Regions from separate parts of the Homo sapiens genome. Here region 2 is linked to region 1. The links come from fine-mapping of genetic effects on gene expression. A gene starts in region 1. The other region holds a variant in brackets. All regions are shown on one strand. Distances are from middle to middle. Region 1 holds the start of PDCD6 (programmed cell death 6). Region 2 overlaps PDCD6 (programmed cell death 6).

What was found. PIP is the estimated chance that this variant, and not a neighbour inherited with it, causes the effect.
Region 2: its variant is fine-mapped to the expression of PDCD6 in whole blood (TOPMed, PIP above 0.99).

Annotation. Positions count from the first base shown.
Region 1 is chr5:270,471-273,228 of GRCh38, reverse strand. PDCD6 (programmed cell death 6) reads right to left here and starts at 1,583. Exons shown (of 6, transcript NM_013232.4): 1 at 1,408-1,583; 2 at 457-518. The coding sequence starts at 1,508. PDCD6-DT (PDCD6 divergent transcript) reads left to right here and starts at 1,705. Exons shown (of 2, transcript NR_104613.1): 1 at 1,705-1,884. PDCD6-AHRR (PDCD6-AHRR readthrough (NMD candidate)) reads right to left here and starts at 1,583. Exons shown (of 13, transcript NR_165163.2): 1 at 1,408-1,583; 2 at 457-518. RefSeq lists a silencer at 1,291-1,500 and enhancers at 1,791-1,880, 2,542-2,758.
Region 2 is chr5:310,325-313,340 of GRCh38, reverse strand. It overlaps PDCD6 (programmed cell death 6), which reads right to left. Exons shown (of 6, transcript NM_013232.4): 5 at 1,939-2,048. All of the region lies in intron 3 of PDCD6-AHRR (PDCD6-AHRR readthrough (NMD candidate)), which reads right to left. Among named protein-coding and RNA genes, the nearest start is that of AHRR, 9.9 kb to the left of the region's middle. The variant G/A (reference allele first, on the strand shown) is at 1,576.

The DNA.
Region 1 (2,758 bases):
GTTCCTGTAACAGCCACATTCCCATACAAGGGCTGCCTGAGCTCCCCAAGCCCTCCAACAATCACCCCCCAGTGCCCTCGAAGGTCTATTCAGAGAAGTCACCAAGATGCAGTCACCCAGGAAATTCAAGGACCTCCAACTTACCAAAAGGCTTTCGGCTGTACAGAGCTAAGCTTCCTATTCCCCTCCTAAACCTACAATCTAGTTTTCATTTCTCAAGAAGCCTTTCCCTGTGCTCACGCACGCAGTTGTTAGCTGGCTCGGTGAGGCACTCCAAGCAGTAACAGCGGTAGCCACAAAATAAACCAGAAGCATCTCCACTACGAAGCAGTAATAACAATTTGTCCTAATGATTCCTTTGTCCTTGGAAAAACAACTTCAGAAAGTTATCCACTGTGAACAGGGCAGGCTCGCGGCTTCTTGGTCCGGAGACCCAGTTCCCACTGGCCCACTCACCGTTGGAGAGAGCTTGCTGAAGCTCGGTGTCTGATATCACTCCACTCCTGTCTTTATCGACCCTATAACATCAAGAAGACCAAATAAGCTGGCGATCGAAAGTTCAGGAAAAGCAAAACAAACGTCTTCTGTCAACCCTGCACCGACTCTGGAAGGCTCCCTCCTGGAACCTCCGCCTCTCCCGTCCCGCTGAGGAGTACAGCGGAATCAAGGAAGTGCCCCAGGAGCCGACGTCCAGTGTGGTCTTCCCCTAAGAGGACAATCATCTTCACCTCAATCCTTCCCTTCCTTCCTCTCCTGGCCTGTCTGAATTCCCATTTGCACCCGTTTCCCTTTTTCACAGACAAGACAAGATTCCCTCAGATAACTAAGCCATTCCCTGGCCATCAGTCACTACAGTTTCGGACATTCGGTGGAAAAGCGACCAGGGACAGAAGGCGCCGCCATAAAGGTCACCTGGCCCGAGCAGACGCCAGGTCGCTGCTTCTTCCTTGGCTGCTGACATTTTAACAGCGCCCAGGCAGTCTGTTTCCGCTTTCCCCAAACAAGCACCCTGGAGACCCTCCACCTGGCGGCTCTTGAGGCGAGAAAAAGGGCCTAGCCCAGGAGCCGGTGGCCGCGACCTCGGGTCTGCAGTGGCGCACTCTGCATCTTGGGAAGGGCCCGACGCACAGGACAGGGACCGGGCAGGAGGCAGGGGCGGCCCCAGGAGACCGGGCAGCGGACGGGGGAGACCGCGGGGGACCCGCCAGGGGACGGGGGCGGCCGCGTCGGCTGGGGCAGGGGTCGGGGGCGGCGGCAGGGGACGGGAGGGGGCCGCGGGGGACCCGACAGGGGACGGAGGAGGCCGCAGTAGAACCGGCAGGGAACGGGGTTGGTCGGGGGAGTCGGGACAGGGGTCGGGGCCGCCGCGGCGGAGGCGGGAGGTGCCCGGGCGGTGCCAGGCCGCACCTCTGGAAAACGTTCCACAGGAAGCTCTGGTCCGGCAGCGCCGCGCCTGCAGCAGGCCCAGGGCCGGCCCCAGGGCCGGGGCGGTAAGAGTAGGCGGCCATGGGCCAAGGCACGCGGCTGGGCTGAGGCGCCTGCAGCGACGAGAGACCTCTCAGGCCGACTCCGCTTCCGCCTCTGCCGGGGGCAGGGCCTGGCATTATCACCACTTCCGGGGGCGCAGGAAATGCGTGGTCTCCGGGATGGTCACGGGGTCCCGCGCAGCCAATCCCCTCGCAGCTAAGTTGCCAGGCAACGCCCTGGCGCCTGCGGGGAGGGCGGGGTCTGGGCGCCTGGAGGAAGCCAGAGCTTTGGCGCAGGCCGCCTGCGCGCTGTGCCAGGAAAGCGCTTGGAGAAAATGTCCGGCCCCGCGACCTGGGACAGGAAGTGATGGAGCACGGACTTAGTTTGCCTTTCAGTTCTTGTATAAATAGTTTTGAGGTGAATGTGATTTGCTAACAGTCGGAAACTCTGGGCGGGGCGCGGTAGCTCACACCTGTGATCCCTGCCCTTTGGGAGGCGGAGGCGGGCGGAGCTCTTGAGCCCAGCAGTTCGGACCAGCCTGGGCAGCATGGATAGACCCCATCCCTACAAAAATTACAAAAAGTAGTCGGGCGTGGTGGGCTCCTGTGGTCCCATCTACTCCGTGGGCTGAGGCGGGAGGATTGCCTGAGCCCGGGAGGTCAAGGCCGCAGGGAGCCGAGCTCACTGCACTACAGGGGTGGACAGCGAGACTCTGCCAAAAAAAAAAAAAAAAAAAAGAAAGCAAAAGCAGGCCGGGCGCGGTGGCTCACGCCTGTAATCCCAGCACTTTGGGAGGCCAAGGCCAGTGGATTACCTGAAGTCGGGAGTTCGAGACCAGCCTTGGCCAATTGGGAGACACCCCGTATCTACTAAAAATACAAAACTAACCGGGCGTGATGGTGCACACCTGTAATCCCAGCTACTCGGGAGGCTGAGGCAGGAGAATTGCTTGAAACCGGGAGGAGGAGGTTGCAGTGATCCGAGATCGGGCCATTGCACTCCAGGCCTGGGCAACAAGTGCAAAACTCTGTCTCAAAAAAAAAAAAAAAAAAAAGTCAAAACACAATTCGGGTGGGAAAGGCAGTGTGCAGCATTCTCGGTTGTCTGTTCCGCCCCCAAAAGCTTCCCTCCTTTAGGTTTAACCTGCGCCCCCGTGCTCTGCATCAGCGCGGCCCCTGACCCCGTGCAGCTGGAAACACTGCTGGGCCCCTTCACACCCCTGCCTGCTGGGCCCCTTCACACCCCGGTGGTGGTGCAGCCCTGCCTCCCGCAAGACAGCACTGCCTTCGTG
Region 2 (3,016 bases), 40 kb before region 1:
TATTTTGAATACTTTGTGTTTTTCTAGGGTTTCTAGAAGTGTTCATGTTATTTGTTAGAAAATAATTTTCAAAAAGCCTTTATCCTTTCAGAAAAAGCAGATAAATAAAAACGTTTTTGAGGGAATTTTAACTTGAGGTCTGCAGCTTTCTTTTCTTTCCCATTCCCCATCTGTCTAGCGTTTAGGGTCACTCTCCAAGGGTGGGGACAGCCTGGGAATTGGCTGTCAGGCCCTCCCCACGTGGTCTGGAGCAGGGCCTTGAGGAGGCATCTCCCAGGAGGAGCTACGCTGGCTGCAGATGTGCCTTGGAAGGCGCTGGAGAGGTCGCTGTGAGGCCGCCTGTGTTACTCCAGCTACCGAAAGCTCACACAAGATCAACGTTAACTTATAGAACATAACCTCAAATGAAGATCTGAGCCCTACGGCAATTCAGACACAGAACCTCAAATGAAGATCTGAGCCCTACGGCAATTCAGACACAGAACGAGATTTTACACGGCATCTTTTCCCTTTTTCTTTTCTTTCTTTTTTAAGACAGGGTCTGGCTCTGTCACCCAGGCTGGAGTGCAGTGGTGTGATCTCGGCTCACTGAAACCTCCACCTCCCGGGTTCAAGTGATTCTCCTGCCTCAGCCTCCTGAGTAGCTGGGACTACAGGCATGCGACACCAGGCCCAGCCTACACTTTTTTGAAAGTGTTCAGAGAACATTGTAAAAATGTCATCCAACCTGGCAGGAACCCCGAGAGGCAGGGGCAGGAAAGGGTCCCCAACCGTAGAGTTTTGAAGCTTCCATGTTCACAGACCTGGTTCTCCAACAAATCCCTGAAGAACAGGGACTGATGCATCCATGCCAAATCAGAGGAAACTCACTTTTACAGATCTAGCATCTTAATTATTATACAGAATAAACAATTTGGGAACGTTTTCCAAATTTCCACATTATTTCTAAAAACCCCATGCTGTTCCTATCTCTCACTGAATTCCAAGGCCAACAAGACAGGACCTTGAGGAACCTGGGTAGAGACCTGGATCACCACCTGCAAACAGCAGCAGAGGTCTGTGTGGAGCTCCCAGGCGGGTCCCCTGAGCCCTGCTCTCCATCTCCCGTGGGTCTCAAAGAGAGCCCAGCAGGAGAGACACCACCAAGGAGCTTGCCTTGCAGGTCAGGGTGCATTACCAGCTCCTGCAGACACTGGAGTGCACGGGAAGAGCTCGGAGACCCCACTGAGGGCGGCCTGAGCGACCACAGGCTCCACAGCTGACCTCACACACAGACGGCAGGACACAGTGATGACCACAACAGAAAACGTGCCCATTTTCTCAGAATAAAAGTTTTTGTAAAAATACACCATAGTTGGCCAGGCATGGTGGCTCATGTCTGTAATCCTAGCACTTTGGGAGGCTAAGGTGGGCGGATTACTTGAGGTCAGGAGTTTGAGATCAGCCTGGCCAACATGGCAAAATCCCGTCTCTACTAAAAATACAAAAATTAGCTGGGTGTCACCTGTAATCCCAGCTACTGGGGAGGCTGAGGCAGGAGAATTGCTTAAACCCGGGACGCAGAGGTGGGAGTGA[G/A]CCGGGATCGTGCCACTGCACTCCCGTCTGGGTGACAGAGCGAGACTCGGTCTCAAAACAAAACAAAACAAAACAAAAAACAAAAAAAACCACAACACCAGAACATACATGTAAATAACCCACCGGATACTGAAAAACCACGTCTTGCAGATGGGCTGCTCTGTGCCATTTCCAAGGGGAGGAAAACATGTTTGTCCACACTTCACTAACCGGCTACTTCTCCAAAGATGAGACTCACTTTTATAAGCTCCAAAAACTAATTCTACACATGCCCAGCTCCTTAGATTGAAGGTCAGGTGCATCACGCTGGCAAGCAAGCCCCTCCCACCACCACCACAAACCCACGTGAAGCCATTCCGTCACCTGCAGGACGATGCAGCCCTGGATGAAGTCGTCGAAGGCAATCTGCCCCCGTCCCTGCCTGTCAAACTTTCGAATGAGGATGTCGTGGAACTGGTCAGAGAGCCGGTAGCCTTCAAGAGGGAAAGTCAGAGTCAGAGAAGGCTGGGAGAGACGGGAGGTATGTGCCAACACTCACCCCTCCTGCCCAAGGCCCACAGCCTCTAACACACACAATGCAAGGCTGTGTGGGAACGGAAGTGCAAATTCCCTCAAAGGCACTCAGAACTGAGACACTTCCCGAATATATCATTCTGTAATGAGCTGACATCCCCAGTGCATGGAGTGACCCCTTGAGACCATGACCCCGGAAGGAGGAGTGAGTGGGACGCTGCCATTAGTCACTCCTGTGAATTAACTACTCACCTCCGGGAAGCACTCACCAAACACCACCCCACAGGGCGGCCACACTCAGTTTCCTGAACCCAGTGGAGTTACTTTCAAAGTCCTTATTGATTTTATTATGTTTATTAGCCTAGATAAGAAAATTCTGAATGATTCGCTGCCCTGGGTTGCCCATCACCAGATAATGCTTTGAAAACTAAAATTTCACAGAAGGCTTCCAGTTATACAAAGTGACAATGTCAGGAAATGGGAGTGGCTGGGGGATGTGCCCCCACCTGCCAGGAGGGACTGAAGGGCACGCAGTGGCAGGGTGACCTCGGAAAGGTCCAAGTCACTGCAGGGCCACCAAGGGCTGGGATTCCGTTTCCAGTTCACCAAGGCTGTCCTGAAAAAGGCCTCCCACAGGGAGAGGGCTCTGAAGACATGTGGATGCAGCAGGTGTGTTCGGGCACCCCGGAGGGCATGCCCCGCCTGCCGCCTTCCCTTCCCTCCCTCGAAATCCCACTGCCTTCGTGACTGTGGCATATCCTTACTGACTCAGGAGGCAAGATCCAGGTGCTGATATATTTCTACTGGTTTTCAGTCCTGCTGGAATCTCTGCAGGGACGTGTGCACCTACTCTCTGAATCTCACAGTTAATGACCTGCACAAACAGCCATTTTACGGATCAAGAGTCAAGCACACAAACATGAACACA